3 separate regions of the Homo sapiens genome follow, and all the other regions are linked to region 1. The links come from fine-mapping of genetic effects on gene expression. A gene starts in region 1. Each other region holds a variant in brackets. All regions are shown on one strand. Distances are between the middles of the regions. Region 1 holds the start of IRF2 (interferon regulatory factor 2). Region 2 has its middle 16 kb from the start of MYL12BP2. Region 3 overlaps IRF2 (interferon regulatory factor 2).

Evidence for each region.
Region 2: its variant is fine-mapped to the expression of IRF2 in monocytes after LPS (Fairfax 2014, PIP 0.95).
Region 3: its variant is fine-mapped to the expression of IRF2 in whole blood (TOPMed, PIP above 0.99).

The regions. Positions count from the first base shown.
Region 1 is chr4:184,470,926-184,477,382 of GRCh38, forward strand. It overlaps IRF2 (interferon regulatory factor 2), which reads right to left and starts at 3,625. Exons shown (of 9, transcript NM_002199.4): 1 at 3,454-3,625. IRF2-DT (IRF2 divergent transcript) reads left to right here and starts at 3,877. Exons shown (of 1, transcript NR_186573.1): 1 at 3,877-6,379. RefSeq lists silencers at 1,884-1,953, 2,014-2,703, 2,784-2,833, 3,644-3,763 and enhancers at 3,794-3,983, 4,334-4,663.
Region 2 is chr4:184,327,057-184,333,513 of GRCh38, forward strand. No RefSeq gene overlaps it. Among named protein-coding and RNA genes, the nearest start is that of MYL12BP2, 16 kb to the left of the region's middle. RefSeq lists an enhancer at 949-1,508. The variant A/G (reference allele first, on the strand shown) is at 3,777.
Region 3 is chr4:184,384,506-184,390,962 of GRCh38, forward strand. IRF2 (interferon regulatory factor 2) reads right to left here. Exons shown (of 9, transcript NM_002199.4): 8 at 6,198-6,244; 9 at 3,224-4,561. The coding sequence ends at 4,253. Among named protein-coding and RNA genes, the nearest start is that of LINC02362, 5.4 kb to the left of the region's middle. RefSeq lists enhancers at 1-349, 1,868-2,626, 4,632-5,365, 5,366-6,099. The variant A/G (reference allele first, on the strand shown) is at 2,800.

The DNA of each region.
Region 1 (6,457 bases):
CCTTCTGACAGGAAAAAATTCACTGACAATATCGGATTCCACTGTGAAATTTTTTTGATACTTTATATAAAAGTTATTCCATGTTTAATCTTTTATCATTATTTATATATGCTCAGAAGTAAAATCCCTCCTTGCTGGAAATTCTATGAGAAAGATAGTGTCTAATCCAGTCATGATTATCTGGCCTTTTTACACTAAGAATAATCTGATATAATTTTGAAAGTTAATGCCTTACACATTTGTAGACTGCCATAATTTATGCAATGTTCTTTCATATACAGTATCTCAATTGTTCATGAAAGCAACACTTACGAGATATAGTTAAAAATTATTATTATCCTCCTTACAGCTAACCCCAAAAGGTAATAACTATATTTTTTGTTGTTAATGGTCAGCTCACTCACCAGAACACAACCTAGTGTAAAGATGCTGTCTTTCTCGCTGTCAGTTGAGTATACAGAGGCTAGCACTGTGTCTGGCTTATAATAGATGTTCTAAGGATATTTATTGAGTGTGTACATAAATTCTCTTGTCTGCGTTAAGCCCTTTTTGGTATAAGGCAGATAAGGGAACTATAACCCAGATACTCCATTTAGATAGAGTACAGTGGTTTTTCACTATCAAAAGGATATTATGTGAAAATGCTCTAAAAACAACAGTTTTGTACGAGATGATGTTAAGAATAAAAATATAACATCGTTGGTAACATGAGAAAATTGATGCACATCAAATGTGGAGCATCCAAAGTGTCTATTTTTCCAGTAAGTTTAAACATCTTTTGCTCTGGTGCACTATTTGCCTAATAAAGTGTTTCAGAAAGTGGGATAAAAGTGGGACCATTGTTCATAAGGCTGTCAGAACTTCATGGCACGCATGTGTTTGCCATAATTTGCTTCCAGTTTGACTACAGATCCTTACTTTTGATTATGCTGACATTTTTACAGGTAAGTAAATCTGAAATAACTGGAACTTTCTCTAACAAAAAAATGACAACTCACTGAGAATGAAATATGTAAATGTTTAATTTTAACAAGCAGTTACAAATCGTAACAGACAAGAACTCTTGGATCTAAGAGACCAAAATGTAATTTCTTACATAACAGACAAAGTTACAAGTTATAATCGTTCACTAATTACAGTGAAATTCCGGACTTTGACACATCAATCAATAGATGTTCCAACGTTCCCCCTAGAGATCCCAGTTCAAGTCTTAAATATTTCATCTGCTGAAGTTTCCTCAGAAAAGGCTCCTTTTCCCAGGATTTTTTAGGTTTCTACTTTTGCCCCTTCTCCCACTAAAAGAAGAATAAAGGAAAGTTGGGGAAATCAGAGAATCCTGAATCTGCGTGCGTGGTGAAGTTAAACAGAGTCACCCTCTGGGCCTGGTAGGGATAACTGCATCTGCCTAGCATCAAGACTATCCACCGCCTGGTCTAACCCCAGACCCCGTTGTGCACCTGCCCTTAAGCACCAAAAACTGAACTGCTCAAAGAGAACCTGCAGTCGATATGAAAACTAGTAAATGACTGCAGGCTTGACAGCAGTCTCGGTGATGCCTGAAAATCCACAACAGGAAATCTAACTATCCTCCATACCTCCTGGCCATTCATCAAAAGCAGACCGAGTCACAGCCATAAGGAGGCCGGTGGCTGAAGACGAATGCCAGCACCACTTTTCCTCATTTAGAACAACTGAGTTTTTTCCTTCCATAACCAAGGACAAGGAGCAACCGGAGGGAGGAGGTTGAAGAGGGAGGGGGCGGGCAATATGTCCCCAAGTTTCAGACAGTAGCGGGTCAGAAACGAGCGAAAGCCACCTCGCTCTTCTGAGCTACCTCGGCCGCCAGTCCCCGGGATCACATCCGCAGCCGAGCGCCAAGGGTCCGGCCTACACAGACTGACCCGGGCGTTTCACCTGGTGCCCGACCACGGCTCTGGCGCCCTGCCCAGGCTGCCCGCCTCCTTCCCCTCCCCCGCTTCTTAGGGAACAAGGAGGAGAGGGTGGCAAACGCACCCAGACCGGGGGCCAAGGGGAGACGCCGGCGCGTGCTGGGAGGGGCATGAGTTACACCCGCGACCCTTGGAACTTGGAACGGCTTCCCCAGCCCCGGCGGACGCCGGCCCCCAGGCCGTGCCACTGGGAGCAGGCGGGCGCCGCGATTGGCCGCGGCCGGCTTCACTCGGTGGGCGAGCCCTACCGGCGAGGCGGAAAGGAAGTGGCGGCCGCCGCGGCTTTGCACCAACCATGTTCGGCCAGCGGGCGAATGTCACCCGGCGCCCGGAGCCGGGTCGGAGGGCACGGGGCGGGCACTCGCGTCCCCACCCCGCCGCGGCCCGCGCCCCGGGACCCCGAGGGGACGCCGGCCCCCACTGCGCCGCTCGGTCCCCGGAGGCTCCCCGCCCCCACCTCGCCCGCTCCGTAGCCGAGGCGGGTCAGGCCCAGCGCGCGAGGCCGGCCGGGGGCGCCTGCGGGGACCCGGGGGCGCACGGCGCTAGGCCGCGGCCCGGGCGGCTGACCCCTCGGCACGGTGCCTTCCTGGGACGCGCCGCCCGAGCCCCTGGCGCGCTGGGACAAGTGCAATGACAAAGCCCCAGGGCCCGACCGGGCGCTGGCCGGCGGGAAGGAGGACGCGGCGTCCCTTCTGAGCGGCGGCGGCGGCGGCCCAGCCCCCAGGAAGCAGGGCGCGTCGGCCAGGCCCGGCGCCCGGCCCGGCTCCGAGCCCGCCCTCCCGCCCCGGCCGCTGGCACCCGACGCCCGCGACCCGACCCCGAGCCCGGCAGGCAGGCGAGCCCCTGGACCGCCGCGGGGCGCCCCAGCAAGTTTCCTCTGGCCGTGGCTGGAGGCGCTCCTCCCGGCCGGGGAGCGGTGCCTGCTTATTTACGCTGGAGGCAGCCTGGAGAGGCGCCGCCGCGGGCACCGAGAAGGACCCGCTCCCCTCCTTCGGATCCGGTGGCGGCGGTGGCTGCACACACACACACGCGCGCACACACAAACACGCACATACACACAATTTTGTTTTAAATGAGGCCCGACTCCAGCTGACCTGCACCCCCACACACAACACCTGGGGCGCAGAAGCACACACAGCAGGTCTGTGTCCATGGAGCCACCTCTCCGCATCTGCAAATCCAAAAGTGAAATTAAACCTCCACCAACCTCCTCCTCCTCCTCCCTCTCTACCTCCTCCTCCTCCTCCTCCTCGCAGCCTCAGCAGCCCCAGTAGCAGCAGCAACAGCAGCAGAACCTGCTTCCCCTAAAATCAGATGATCCATAATTGCGCCGACTGTTCCTCCAAAAATCAGTATTAATATTTATGAACCCCGGCATTTTCCGTCTGCAAAACATCGTGTCAAGGCATCAGGACACGCATACACACACGGCCCCCCACAGTCCCCAGAAACATGCCCTCGAGAGAAACACACACAGTCACAACTATTATTTGAAAAATGTTACCTCTCAGTGTGCTTTTTTCACGCTACCAATACAATTCCGCAAGGTATAAGTGTTGCTAGGGTATGTGAAATGGAAATGAAAGCCCGTCAGTTGAATAATCGCAGGAGCAAAACTAAAAGTTACTCCCCGGCTTGCCTGAGAACAGTCCAGATCGAAAGCAAAACAAGGAGAGGAAACTGCGAAGAGCCGCGGCTGGAAATCCCCCCACCCCCCGCCCTCCTCCGGCCGCGCTCCCTCCCTCGCCTCCCCTCTCCGCCCTCCTCCCTCCGCCCTTCCTCCCCAGTGTTTGTTTCAAGCTTGTGCAACCGGGAGGTGGAGGCGGAGGGAGGGCGCGAGCGGCCCGGCCGGGAGGTGCGGAAGTTCGCCGCAGCAGCTCATTGGCGGGCAGCGCCGCTTTCATCATTTCTCGGAAAAGTCAATTTCATTTTCGCTTCCCCAGGTCGCGGCGGCGGGAGCAACAAGCAGCGGCTCGTGAGTCCGCGGCTCGCACCCAGGGGCGCCCGCACGTGCGGCTAGAACGTCCGAGTCGGGGTCCGGGGCGGGGGGCGCAGGCCCGCGGCGGTAGGGGAGGAGAGCGGGCACCCGAGTCTCCATCCTCAGGGTGGCCTGAAGGTTCCAGGAGGGCGTCCGGCGAAGGCACGGGGCTGCGACCATCCAGTTAGCAGGGCTGGTGTGACTGTTGAGAGTAAATGAAAATTCGTTTTGTGACACCGACCACCTCCAAGGAATGAAAGGAGCAGTCAGCCGAAACGACAGCATTACTTGCGTCCTTACCTAATTGGAACCTTATCCGTGGCTGAGGGTGCCACCATTGGAGGGGCCGCCGCCCCCTCTGACACCACCTGGCGCTCCGCTCCATTTAGGAGCTAGAACGAAAAGGAGGCCCATCCCCCAGTAAGTCACAGCCCACGCCAAGATGAGTTCTGGAGCCTGTGCGACCGAAGTTTCTTCACCGCAGGGCGAGGTGGACAAGGGTGTGAGTTACTTTGACTTCAAGACGTCTCAGTGGCGGCTGGTTCTGGAGAGAGGCTTTATGCTGGAGCACTTCCAGCAAAGTTCGGCTGGGGCCTCCTTAACTCACTGGCTGGTCACCCTTGGCCTCGGTTTTCAACCAAAGCCTAAGGCCTCAGTTTTCAACGCTGTAAATGGAAATAAATGAGAGAAGAAAGTACAGCCCGTGTGACAAGTGCAGCAAGCAATGCAACTTCCTTGGGACCTACCCTTTGTGGTCCCTTGCTTTAAAAGTATAGATTCACATTTAGTTAGACCTGTTTCTTCCTCGCATGCAATTTCACCAGTCTTTTCCCAGACTTCTGTACTCAACAGAGGAAGTTCCTTCCTGGGAGACCATAGCTGTTTGTATGTAAAGAGTTGCGAAAAAACAAAAGCAAAACAAAAAACTCCAACACCTCTCTGTCACAGAAGTATTGAATTATATAGACTGGAAAAATGGAAGTATCCAAGAAAACGCGTGTGGTAAGAAAATGGCTAAGGTGCAGGATTCTGTTTTGTGGCTCTGGTCTCAGAAATAGACCTCACATACACATTATTCCTTATCCCCTCTATTATAATACTCACTTTTTTTTTTTTTTAAGAGACAGGGTAGGCCGGGTGCAGTGGCTCATGCCTGTAATCCCAGCATTTTGGGAGGCCAAGGCAGGAGGATCACCTGAGGTCGGGAGTTTGTGACCAGCCTGACCAACATGGAGAAACTCCATCTCTACTAAAAATACAAAATTAGCCAGGTTTGGTGGCGCATGCCTCTAATCCCAGCTACTTGGGAGGCTGAGGCAGGAGAATTGCTTGAACCCAGGAGGCGCAGGTTGTGGTGAGCCGAGATTGTGCCATTGCACTCCAGCCTGGGCAACAAGAGCGAAACTCTGTCTCAAAAAAAAAAAAAAAAAAAAAAGAGAGGGTCTTGCTCTGTCACTCAGGTTGTGCTATCATAGCTTACTGTAACCTTGAACTCCTGGCCTTAAGCGATCCTCCTGCTTCAACCTCCCAAGTAGCTGGGACTACAGGCCTGTGACAGTGCCTGGCCCAGGCACTGACTTTCTTATGTCATATAGCAATGACCACTAAGGGAAAGTCTATACAAACTATAGAATAGTTGTCATTCTTTACCCAACCCGGGACACAAGTTAAAAACCTAGTATTCATTTTTTTTTTCCTGTACCAAAACAATCATCTTCCTTTATTTTTCCTGGAGCGGGAAGAGGAGAGTGGAGAAGAAGGGAAGAATGCAAAGTGTCACTTTGAACTTCTCGTTCACCACACACGTGGGAGTCCACTCATGTCAGCAGCCTCCGTGCACAGGCCCCAGGTGAAAGAAAGAATGAGGTCTAGTTGGACCAGCTAACACTGCCTGCCTTGTGTTTACGAAAGGCAGCTGCCTCTGTGGTGTGATTTCAGGGGAGCCAGACAGGGCCGGGGCCACGAACCTGCATCCTGCATCCTAAGCACCTATTGCCATGCGTGAGGCTAACTGGAAACTCACTTGCTGGGTGCAGATAGCTTCCAAACTATTGTGATGCTCATGCTTGACTTCCCAAGGAACGTGTTTCAGGAAAGGCCATTGCCCTCATTATGGTCTTTGATAAGCAGGAAGAAGTTTGTTGTTCCTTTTTTTTCTTAATGCCCTACTTCGTGCAACATACATCCAATCAGTCATATCCTATTGACGCTACCCCTAAATATCTCTGGGCCTGGCCCGTGCTCAGGGCACTGCCTTCATTCAGTTACTGCACTTGCCTGCTGCCTGTGCTCCTGGTCTCCTGCTTGGACTCCCCCAGGCCAGCAGCCACACTACTGCCAAAATCCAGTCGAAAATTAACTTCAGGTAAAGCACAATTCCAAACCTAACACTGCCCCCCTCAAAAGCCTCTCTGTAGCCTTCAGAATAAAGACCATATTATTTGACAAGACACATAAAGTCCATTGTAATCTGGCACCAAACGACCTTTCCAGCCTCATCTCCTGCCATTGTGTCCCACAAGCCCTACAT
Region 2 (6,457 bases), 140 kb before region 1:
GGAGATCTTGCAATTAAGAATTGGCGTCTGAACCAATATTCCCAATCTCTAATCTCAAACCTATTTTTTTCCTCCTGAACTGATGGTATGTTGACCTAGAGATGATAAAGGCAAAGTTATTTAGGAAGGTAACGCTGGCAGCCAGTTGGGTGGAATAGCTGGAAAAGTTCCTTTAAGAGTGAAAGGATAGGCCAGGTGCAGTGGCTCACTCCTGTAATCCCAGCACTTTGGAAGGCCAAGGCAGGCAGATCACCTAAGGTCAGGAGTTTGAGACCAGCCTGGCCAAAGTGGCAAAACCCCGTCTCTACTAAAAATACAAAAATTAGCTAGGTGTGGTAGCACATGCATGTAGTCCCAGTACTCAGGAGGCTGAGGCAGGAGAATTGCTCAAACCCAGGAGGCAGAGGTTGCAGTAAGCCGAGACCATACCACTCCACTCCAGGCTGGGCCACAGAGCAAGACTCTGCCTCAAAAAAAATTAAAATAAAAAAAGAATGAAAGTATCCATAATTACAGGTAGATTATCATCAGTTTTCTATTTTTGCTAGATGTTGAAATTAGGTGTATTGAATAAAATACATGGGACTTAAAGCCTGAGTAGCTTCTTTCAAATCCCAGCTCTGCTGCTTAGCAGCTGCCACTGGAGAAGTGATTATCCTCTGAGCTTCATTTTGTTCATCTGTAAAACCCGGCGACCAGCACATAGGAAGAACACAGCAAATGCTGGTGTCATTGAACATGCAGATAAATGAATGATTAACAGTCAATGAATTGAAAACTGTTTACCAAACCCAGGCTTGGAAGATTCAAAACAGAAACAGTGGTGTTGACAGAGCATTATATTTTAATGGATGACAGTAAATAGAAAAAGGGGGTTGATTCTGGAAAAGCGGAAAGAGCTTCAGAAATACTGGGAAGCTCCTGGCTTTTGGCGCTCCGTCTTGTTGAAATATTTAAGCCTCAACATACTTTCTCAACCTCATTGTTAGTGAAAGAAGGAAGTTCTATTAAAGAGAGCAAGAGAAAGACCATGCCTCAATAGCCAGAGTAAATCTAGTTTCCATCACACTCAGGGTGACCGGTTGGTCAAGGCAAAGCAGCATGGATGCTCCTGATGTCAGGATTTTTCTGTCCTGACCTGAGATGCTTCTGGGTGAACCCATCAGACAAGATGCTTTCTCAGACTCAAGTTCAACCACGTGGACCTCAGAGAACGTATAGCATAGTGTTTGTTGTTCCAGCTAGTACCCAGACAGGAGTCACCTGTGTGCATGTCTTTGCATGCATCGCCATGGGGGTTTTCCCAGCTCTGGTTCTCTAGTTCACTCGAATGAACACAGGAGGGATCACAAAGGCCTGAAGAATGTGTGTTCTTTTCTTCTGTTTTCCTGCACAGGTGCTAGTGTATTAAAAGCAAGAGCAAAGGGGCAGCCTGATGGCTGACGAGCTGATGAACAAGAGCAGCAGGTGTGTCCCCGCTGTTCCTAGAGAACAGTATGGAGAGTGGATCTCTCCATCACCCCCTCAATTCCCAATTACATCCCAGTTGTCCCATCCTCAGTCCTGAGGGGCTTTCTTAGTTGAGTCATAAGGGTAACCTCCAGGATGTCTCCAGAGCTAGGAGGAAGTTGCATAATATCAGTGTTTTTTAAGTACTTTTAGAAAGCAGTGACATTCATTTGACAAAAAAATTTAATGTACAGTGATTTCTTTCACTTACTGCTGTTGACTTTTCATAAAAAGATAATCTAAGGTCCCTTCCCTCTAGGATGTATTTACAACCTCCTTGGGGAGTCAAACATAAAAATTAAATAAGAGCTATGGAAGGATTACACCGATATAATTAATTTTAAAATTAGATTGAGAGCAAAAACATTTATTGAGCATGTACTATGCTCCAGGTACCTGCATAGGCACTTTTATTTATTCCTCTGATTGAACTGTCCTGTAAGGCGTGGGATATTATCTGCATTTTACAAAAGACAGCTCTAGGCTCAGAATGGTTAAGTAATGACAGGGTTCAGGACATGCTACCCCAAACTGTGGTACCTTGACACACTGAATATCTTAAGCTGAAGGAATCTGAGAGATGGCACGTGCAAGAAGCTCCCTCTCACCTTTCCCCTCACCTTGCCTGCTGAATCAGGTCGTAAAACCTAAGAAGGATTTTCTGACCTTCTCCTGAAGCAGGTCATCGTAAGACCCTCCTGTGAGCGGTGCCCTCCCTAGACCCGGAGAAAGGGAACATCCTTATTTCTGAAGACAAAGAAGAAGCTGAACAAACAGGCCTTGCTCAGTTTCCCCCAGTTTATTCCCATCAGACCACACTCTTTCCCCAATCACGTTTCCGCACACCTGGCCACTTCTCGTCAAACCTGTTGTACAAAAGAAGCCAGGCTGAACTGTTTCTCTGGGTCATTTCCTTATGAAGGTTCCCGTGTCAAGTAAAACTTAGATTAACTAAATGTGTATACTTTTCTCTTCTTAATCTGTCTTTTCTTATATGGGCCTCAGCCCTGAACCTGAGATGGGCAAGGAAGATACATTTCCTCCCGTACCGTGACAAAATAAGTGTCTTCTCGTTCAGAGTTTCCGATTCCAAATCCAGGAGTCTTTCCACTACATCAAACCTAATGGTAAATATTCAAGCATGTACAAAAGAAAGATCCCTGTAGTTGAGTGCATCCAGAGAAGCGCCTTGGCTCTCCCAGTAGTACTGCTCTGACCTGAGGAAGAATAAGGCCTTTATAAGCACAACTTGGCTGCATTCCACTGGCATAAATCCCAATCAGACAGTCAACCCCCTTCCGCATCCCCATCCTCTGGCCTTTTGAGAAAAGGGATCTGCCCTCCTAAGGGAATGTTCATTTTGCCACTAACAGGGAGCTCTCTGAAAAACGCTGTTTGCTGTCCAGTCACACCTCTGTGGAATCTTTTAACACATGGCGATTCTGTGGCAGGATACCTGTGTTGGTTTTGTTTTCACAGAGTGGTCACAAAGCTGAGTTCAAGGTGAGAAGTGAAAACAATTAAATGAATGGTAGCTTTTTCCACATGACTTTTCACTGCAGTGACCCAGCCCGGTCAGCCCCCGCGCCCGCTCGGTGGCGTGCACTTCCCATGACACACACACTCGTGGTATCCATGAGTGCGTGTCAGGAAAGCAGAAGTGTCACATGGACAAGCGAGTGTCAACAAGAGATGTGCCTCCTCTACACATCATGTGGTTAATGTCCAAACTCACTCATCCCACAGTCACGTTTGACTCTCAGTTGATCACTCTTTGTTCATGTTGAGATTCAACAGGAAATATTGTTTTTACAGGGTCTGGAATTTTAATGAGTCTAAGGATTCCTGATGGTTGTATTGACTTTATTTGTGGGGTTCTCAAAAGGAATCTCACAGTGTAGTCAACAGCAAGGAGTAAGCATTTTCTTACTTACAAAACCAAAGTTATATGTGTGGTACAAAGATGAGAGACTGGGGCCAGGCGAGGTGGCTCACGCCCATAATCCCAACACTTTGGGAGGCTGAGGCAGGCAGATCACCTGAAGTCAGGAGTTTGAGGCCAGCTTGACCAACATGGTGAAACCTCATCTCTACAAAAAATGCAAAAATTAGCTGGGTGTGGTGGTGCACACCTGTAATCCCTGCTACTCAGGAGGCTGAGGCAGGAGAATCACTTGAACCCAGGAGGTGGAGGCTGCAGTGAGCCAAGATCACACCACTGCACTCTAGCCTGGGTGACAAAGCAAAACTCTGTCTCAAAAAAAAAA[A/G]AAAAAAAAAGTGAGACTGGGAGCAGAAAGCAAGCAGTACTCACGCCACACTGCTGGGCAGTGGTGCTTAAAGAAAGCGAAAGAACAAACAAATGAAATACCAGCCTCAATGCAAAAATAAGCTGGAATGGAGGAGGTTTTCCATGCTTTTTGAAAGAGGCTGGGTAGAAATTGTAGTCTTGGGGGTTTTGTTGACAGCAAGAATTTCAGCTTTGCCTTAAGTGTTACTCAGAAGGTGAAATGGATTCAGCCAAACGTTACCATATAAACACAAACAGGCACATTTTGAAAACAGTTCCTGGAGTTCCAGGGAGCTCCCCTTTAATTCATCCCTAGCTCAATGCCGTATAGTTAGTGTTCAACGTCCTTCTAAGAAAAGAACTGAGGCGGTTTATTATTAGTGGTGAAGAACCAATACACAGAAATACAAAGGGTCATAGAAAGACAGTAAGCAACATTTCTGCTACAACAAGAGTCCGTAACCATGCTTTACTCCAGCCTCGGGGCTTCTGAAACCTCCCTAAGCTAAGAAACACAAACACATGTATGTGGGCCCATAATAGATGTAGGTGAGGGCTATAGGTCTCCTCAGCTTCATACCAGGTGGTATGTTACAATGAAAGCAAGTCTCAGACGGAATTCGGCCATAAAATAAACATTTAGAAGCCAGCAGGCTCAAAAACGTGGTACAACCAGTTCTGTAAACTCAACCAAGTACTGGTGCTTTGTTCTGCTGGCACACTGACAGGTGCCTTACATAACAGATTCACTTAAGGCAGATGTGACAGTACTCGAACAGCATGATTTAGCTTCATGTCTAGTCAGGGTCAGGTGCAGGAACCTTTCTATGAGCTGTGGATACAAGTCCTGATTCAAATCCCAAACCAGAGACAGCATTTGGAAGGGCATACATTATCCACTAGGCTTTCTAGGTCATAATACCCTGTTTATGCAAGGAGATGCAATCTGATACAGTGCTTCCAGTCAGCCCATAATATTTTGAACAACTCTTACTTCACCAATGAAAATGACTCCTAAAATCCATTATGCCAGATAGCAAAGCTGTTGGTGTTCATTGAGGATAGAGGAAGTTCTTATAGCTGACTCTCTAGAGCAGGAGCTGCTTCTTCTTTTTTTTTTTTTTTTTTTGAGACCGAGTCCAGCTCTGTCGCCCAGGCTGGAGTGCAGTGATATGATCTCGGCTCACTGCAACCTCCACCTCCCAGGTTCAAGCGATTCTCCTGCCTCAGTCTCCCGAGTAGCTGGGAATACAGGCGTGTGCCACCACACCAAGCTAATTCTTTGTATTTTTAGTAGAGATGGGTTTTCACCATGTTAGCCAGGATGGTCTCGATCTCCTGACCTCCTGATCTGCCTGCCTCGGCCTCCCAAAGGAGGAGCCTCTTAATAGTCTTTCAAATTCCAACAGACCACCCCTGGAGTGTGTATATTCATTCCTGAATAGGGCTCTTCAATATTAACTCGCTGCTCCTGGTTGTCAATTAAAAACCCAGAGATAAATACCACTACCTATGCCAACATTTTTAACCATGAATTGGAACAGTGTAATATTTTTGCTGGGATCTTTGATTGTCTCTTGCCAGAGCCCAGACTGGGGATCCAGGCATACACCTGGGCTCAAGACTTAGGAAAGCCCTCTCTCTTTCCTGGCCTTACAGTCTGGAGTCTTGGTCAGAATCTGCCCATCTTCAAACAGTTATGGCTTTCTCTTCTTACCTGTGCCTTCCATCAACCTTGTGAAGTAGGTGACGGTTACCAGGGTTAGAGTTCAGTTATTTCAAGAGCTTATCAGAGGAATTAAGCAGCAATTTTTTTATTTTTTTGCTTCAAGCTATCAGTTCCAAGGTCAACATGATATCTTGATACTCTTAAATGCTCTGATATTTTTTGATTTGCTGTGAAAGGCACACAATATTAACTCTATTAATGCCAGACAAAATACCGTCATAAATACTACATAGGAAGGGCCCTTGACAAAGACAGTCTCAGTGACCAAACTTTAGAAGGCCCCTCTCAGCCCTCTTTTTAACAGGACTCATCCCTGGACCCAGGCTTCAGCCTGCCTAGTCCAGTTTTAGCAGGGATCCTGCTAAGCCAATTTAGTGAGAGTCCCTCAACCTTGACCTCTGACCACACTGGTCTGCCTTCAGCAAGAATCCTGTTAAAGTCAGTTTAGCAAGAATTCCCCTCCCCTTGATATTTTTCTTGGTAATTACTTCTCTTAATAATTTTCTACCCATCAACCTCCCCAGCCCCCATCTGATACTGACATGGCCTAAAAAACTTGAATATCATACTGCTGGACTGAGTGAGGGTTTTCGAAACTCTAGTTGAGTTCATGAAACTGCTAACCCATGATCAAGCAAAACAAGAATTAATTACATAGGACTGAATCAACTAAAGAAGGAGTATAATTTTTATGGCTTTTTGTTTGGAACATTGCTTGTTCTTAATGTTCTATTTTCTGGACATAAGGAACCCCTTTTCTTTTTCTCTTAAGTTAGCTATAATATGTAACAATTTAGTAGATACATTTCTATAACAAAAATGGAACATTTATCTTTTTTCCTAATCCTTCCATAATTCAGAAACTATTACTGAGTATTTTTATGTTCATGGTTGTATTAGTCTGTTCACACTTTGCCATAAAGAAATACCTG
Region 3 (6,457 bases), 86 kb before region 1:
CAAACCTCTACAAAACCCTCATTTGTCTGCACAGCAGGACCAGTGATGCCCAAGCCCAGACAGGGAATGGGGGTGGTACCAGTGTCCCATGGGGCCAGTGGGGACCCAGAGGCCAGACAGCCTCACGAAAAAGCATCTCCCCCTGACTCCTGCCAGCTTCCTGCATCTCCTGACCTGAAGCTTCGCACGGCCGGGCTCTCCTCTCCAGGCCTGTGGTTGGACACATTCCTAAGGGGGTGAAGCCAACAGTCCCAGCCCTGTTCTTTTGACACCGGGATGGTGGGGCTCTGGGGAGGAGGAGATCCCAGGGATGACAGCCTAGTAGTACCCAACCTTGATTCACATGCTGGGGTGCAAATGAGTGAGAAGCAGCCTCAAGAAGCTGATGGTGTCACCCAACTGCCCTTGGGAGGGGTCCACTGCAGCCTGGGGACAGAGGGAGGTCAGAGTCACGTCCCACCTGCTCTGATAACTCTGGCCCCAGGCACGTCATTGTACTGTGGGATGGAGTTTCAGGGTGAGGTAGGCGGCTGAACGGCACCATGTAAAAACCAGTTTGTGCCTCCAAACCAAACTGGCACTCAGACATTAGCTGTTTGACCCCTGAATGCCAATGAACTCATCTTGGCTACCTGTGTGTAAACCTTTCCCTAGCTTTTGTCTTTTATCAGGAGAAATCTGGCAGAATAGTGGGGGTTCTTTTTTTTTTAACCTTTTATCTGGGCTTATTTGTCCAAAACTACAATAGCAGGGGGCCTTTAAAGCCTAATGAACGCAGGTTACAGAGTGGCCTCAAGCAGAAGGAACGTCTCATGTTCCATCTCTCTGAATTAGGGGCAGGAGGCCAGCTGGGGCTTACCATCTTTCCATTCACATGCAAAGCACTTCCAAAAGCACAAGTTTGAAAACTCAGACTCCTGAAATCAAATCACTCATCTCCTTCACTTCTAAAATCTCTGTCTCAGTAGTGGTTACATGATAGTACGGTACACTTGGGATTTGGGTGGGGAAAGGGTATTGTTTTAGGGTTTTGATGTCCAAAGAATTTGTATTCCATAGCCATGTGTATTTCTTTTTTACAAATCCTTTGAAATAGACTAAATACCACCTTTGGCAGTGGTTCATCAAAACACGGACAAAACAGTACGGTTGAGGGTGGATTTATTTAGATGTGCAAATGGCATTCCAGAAGCCCCTTTCATCGAGGTGTGTGGATGTGCTGGGTGCTTGCAACCTCAAGGCTGGGCAGAAATACATGTCCCTGAATTCACAGTTCACAGCTGTACAGTGAGCCCATTATCAAGGGAGTGACCCAGGTACTGGCTGCAGAGAATGGAAACTATTGTTCCAAAGGCAGTTACACTGAACTTGAACTTGCTATTAAACGCATACGTGCACACACACACCCAAGCCCATCATCAAAGCCTATCAGCTCACACAAATACCAACCAGAAGCATGCGTCCCTGGCACTTCCTCTAAGTGACGACAAGGTCTGAGGCTTGGGTCCAGGAGCTGCCCCAATGCCTTTGTTTTCCTTCCCCATGTCAACCCCAGGCATCCTGAGACTAGCTTGTTTTCCTGCGTTGCTGGCAAGTATCACTTAGAAACAATACAGGCTTTCTCAGAAGGATTTTAAACATGATTCTGTTTTTCATGGCCTTATTGGCAATGGAGTATCATCTCTGGAACTTAAATGGTGCATTTCCAAGTCCTGAATTTTCTTCCACTTGATGGGCCTTGGGAAGTCTAGTTACGCTACAGAAGCAAGGGGAGGGCAGCAGGAATGGCATTCGGGACCGAGATGCAGGAAGAAGCCCTGAGTCTGTGTTGGGAAGAAGGAAGGGGGAGGAGACCTGAGCTACCTTAAACCCTTTGATAACCAGGCCACGTGACTCAGGGCAACCTTCCGTTGCTGTTTTGTTAATTTATTTAAAATAGGATGACTCAGTAAAACATTTTAGATGTAAGTCTCAAAGAACTGAACTTCTCCATTCAGGACCTGGGGGAAGAGCAGGTCTTAACTGAAAAGTCGGGTGCCAAGGAGCCAGGGAGCATCTGTTTCTTCCTGATAACTCCCCTTCCACTGAGAAACTGAGACAGTCAACGAAAGTGCTCCTTCCAGAAGCAGCCCCGCCTCTGTGTGTGGCATTTCAACTACAACGCATCCGCCAGGAAAATGCTCCAGTTGATTTCCATTCAGGGCTGGATAACTTTATGACCGCTAATTATATCTGCAGCCACACATGGAGATAGGCATAAAAATAGCCTTTTGTCCTTTCATTAAAGGAACCTCTTCAAATATTAACTTAGCAATCTCCTCCACAACCCCCCAGAGGTAGTAGGCGGGTAGCAAAGTTTTCATATTCTGATTTTACAGAGTAAGATACTGGGGATGCAGGGGAGGCTGGTGCTGTGGCTTTCTCCAGGCCAAGACTATACCTTCAAACACCAAGTGGCTGATAAAGACTGGTGTTCTTGAAGTCACCCCTTTTATTCCACAAGACAGACCCCAAGTTTTGAGGGCACGGTCTATGTGTAAGGCCTCGGGTCCTAGAAAGACGAGTGACGGACATGGTGTTAGAGCCCAATACATATTTCCTGTTGTGGAAAATGTCTTATCCATGCACCCCTCTAAGTGACATAAACACAAGACGTTTGTCGTACGTGTAAGCCTAAGGATGAAAACAGGAAAGACACAGAGTGGGGTGAACCTTGCTCACAGCAGAGAAGGAAACCAGTGGCGTGGCTAAAATACTCCCCCTCCACAGGGAATGCTCCCAACACAGAGGAAGACAGAC[A/G]TTTGAGATAACGGATATGCTTACAAGAAAAAAGACCCCCTTCATAGCACAGAGAATTGGGCTCAACTTGTGCCCAACTTGTGCCCTTGCCTCTTAGTGCCACTATGAGCCAAGTAAAGGCATCTTCACATTCAGTCTTCATTTCCTCCACATGAAATGGAGATGAATGCCTATTCTACAGCACAAGTGTGATGAATGAAGACGGGAAGTCATGCAAAACGCTCAGCACGGGCCCCTGCTCAGGCGAGCACTCAAGAGAAGAAGTCAACTGAAGCCTCACAGTAAGAACCTCCACGGTTTCTTGTGGTCAACAAGGGAAAACATTTTGGTCCCCAAAAAGAAACAATCCTTTGTCAGTCCTATTCCGTGATTATGCTCTTTTAAAGCAGACACAGACAAAGCCAGGAGTGATGCCCCTTAAAAATTTAACTATATATCATATTCATTTATTATCAATCCACAGGAAAATCTGATTGCTACATGAGCTCATAAAAGCTTTTTTCACCTTTACAAAATTAAAAAAAAAAATGTGCCACAAGGATGTAATAACAACTGCTGATAAACAAGAAAAGGAATCTTAAAATTATAAATTTGCTGTAGAAAAGATAAAAAACAATTATATTTTATTTAGAATTTTACCTTGAATAAAATATTCCCCTGTATAAAAAATAAAAAAGCTTGCTCTGGTTAGAATTAGAGTATTTTTGTCTTCAAATCTGGGAATTTGCATAATATTTCCATGATACTTTTTCCTTTGTACCGCGTGGCATTCAAGCATAGCAGATTAGAAGGATTTTTTTTAAAGCAGTCTGAAAATGGGACATCTGTAGAGAAATTCATTTCCTTCTTCTCCTCCGGATGTGGAATGGAAGCTTTGAGGGAAGGAAAAGTAGGAAAAGAGCGGGATGGGATGGGATGGGATGGGATGGGATGGGATGGGATAGGAAGAGAGGCTGGGGAATGGGCAGAGAAGGGGGTGCTGAGTGTGCTGTGAGATAGAGCAAGATCACAAGAAGGCCTATCTGTAAGTGCTTTAAGATAAGGTGCAGAAGCAGACTGCAATGTCGCTAGTGCTGCCTATGTACATATTCACAAGAATAAAAAATTCCAGCTAGTTCACATTATCTCGTCCGTTCTGAGGCATCCACTCCACCTTGCTGGCCTTGACCGCAGGCAATGCAGCACCTCCACTGCCCTTGTTGGTCCTTGAACTTGAGTGAGTAGCCCTGGGAGATCCAGCAGGCTCTAGAAACACACGTCTACCAATGGGCTGGAGTCCTGAGTTAAAGAGAAGCTCCAGTACTGGAGTTGGACACAGCAATCAATGTTCTATTGTCAAGGCTTTTTCCCTTAGATTTGTCTAAAATAGGTGTCAGAGAGAAAAAAATAAAATACAAACAAACAACAAAACAAAGCCAAGAAGCCCCAACAACCACCGCGGAGAGTCAGAGGCTTAACAGCTCTTGACGCGGGCCTGGGTGATATCCGATGTTTTCTTGATGACGCTGGCCCGGGTCTCCCGGTCTGGCCGACTGCTGCTGGATGCTGGGGTCATGGAGGAAGAAAGGGGGAGGTCTTGAAAAGGGGGCCAGGAGCTGTTGTAAGGCACCGGATTGCTCTCCTCTTTGATGGTGACCTGGAGGTCCGGTTTGTTGGAAGTGACGAAGGACGCCATGCCGGGCAGCAGGTAGGAGCCTCGAGTCCCCATGTTGCTGAGGTACTGTTTGCCTTCAATATTCCTCTTCCGCCAGTGTGGCCGCCCCTTTCAAGAAAGTAATTAAGATATGTATTTCCTTCTCCTTCTATTGGATGGCTTTTTAAAAATGCATCACTGGCCAGGTGTGGTGGCTCATGCCTGTAATCCCAGCACTTTGGGAGGCTGAGGCTGGAGGATCACTTAACCTCAGGAGTTTGAGACCAGCCTGGGCAATGTAGCGAGTCCTCATCTCTACAAAACGTAAGAATTAGCTAGGCATGGTGGTGCACACCTTTAGCCCCAGCAACTCGGGAGGCTGAGGCGGGAGGATCACTGGAGCGCAGTAAGTCAAGGCCTCAGTCAGCTATGATTGCGCCACTGCACTCCAGCCAGGGCAACAGAATGAGACCTTGTCTCAAAACAACAACCCACAAAAAAAATTTTAAAATGAAAAATGTGTCGTTCCCATGTGTTGGTGCTTTAGCTGAGTTTCTTAAGAACTGCAGAATGAACAAAGGCTTAGCACCTCTACATCCCTCAACTGAAATCTATTGCACCCAGCTATTCATATGCCAAGTAATGGTTTTTCTTCCCTTTTCTTTTTTTTTAAAAAATCAATTCCCATTTGCTACCTCCCAGAAATACTTTCCAGACTACTCTGTGAAGGCAGGAAAAGAAGGCAGCAGCTTGGTTTCTGGTTCCCTTGTGCTCTGCGGCTCGGCCCGATTATTCGATAGGTTTCAGGTCACCATGGCCAGTGTGGCACAGCGACTCGGTCCCTCAATGCTGGCCCAGTCAACCTGAGCCAACCTGCATTTTCAGAGAAAAGGCAGCGAGGAACTTAGTGACAGGCAATGAATGCCCCTTGATTGCTTTCAAATGGGGGCGGCTTAGAGCTCCACGGTGTACAGCAAGCAGCGGCCTCAGGGCTGGCTTCATTCAGAGAAGTGGCTAGAGCTGCAACCTTGAAGAAATCAGGCCAGGGTGTATGGGAGCGTGTACATCTGTCTTTTCAGAATCCCTGCACTTTTTCTCAAAGTGTTTAGTACATGGGAAACCACTAATTCAAACAACCATGAGCTTCCCTCTCTCTTGCTCCCTCCCTCTCTCTCTCTCATTCACTCAAGCGCAGACCCCCAGCAGGTGGCCAGCAGGAATGCTTTCCATCTCCATTCCAGCCACTTTCTGCCATTGTGCACGCCCCATCTATGGGAGGGAGAGGGGACGGGACCCACTCGGAATCGAGATGGGGCACACAACCAGCTCTGGGCACGGGTCACAGCGGGAGGGAACCCACGCACACGTGGAAGAGGCTTTTGCTTAGCATTTTGTGACGTGTACTGGTCACTGCTTTTGGCTGGGAAGGCTGCTCTATTTTTGCCGGTGAAGTAGGATGTTTAAGTGGTAAGAGCATCGGCATTTCCCAGCCTCCACTTCAATTCCCTTTTCCTGCTATCACAGCTTCTCTACCTGATGGTAACATTTAACTCCCTTTCCTCCTTTCAGTTCCAACGCCGAATTTTATAACCCCAAACCCAAAAGTATGGTAAATTCTGGTGATGCATATTTCACCACACAAGAAAATCCCAAAGTGAAGCTTGTGATCTAAAGGAAAGGTGCATAACCAGCAGCAAGGAAAGCCCGGAGCTGGTCGGGAGGCTTTTCCTTGGCAGCATCGTGGGCAGGCTGGGCAGTGGCTTACCTCGGCACTCTCTTCATCGCTGGGCACACTATCAGTCGTTTCGCTTTCTGTTCACAGAGAGAAAAACACAGGGCCATCATTCCTGTCCCTCAAGCTGTCCCCAGGCTCAGGCAGTGTTTATAAAAAGGAGACTGAGTAACTAAACGCATCACCTCCCTCCCTTTGTAAAGCGAAACATTCTACATGGGAGAAGCTAGAGTGAATTTCAACTCTGTAATCTTCGGAGAAACCAGGCTTGAGAGCTGTGAGGAGGCTCCCTT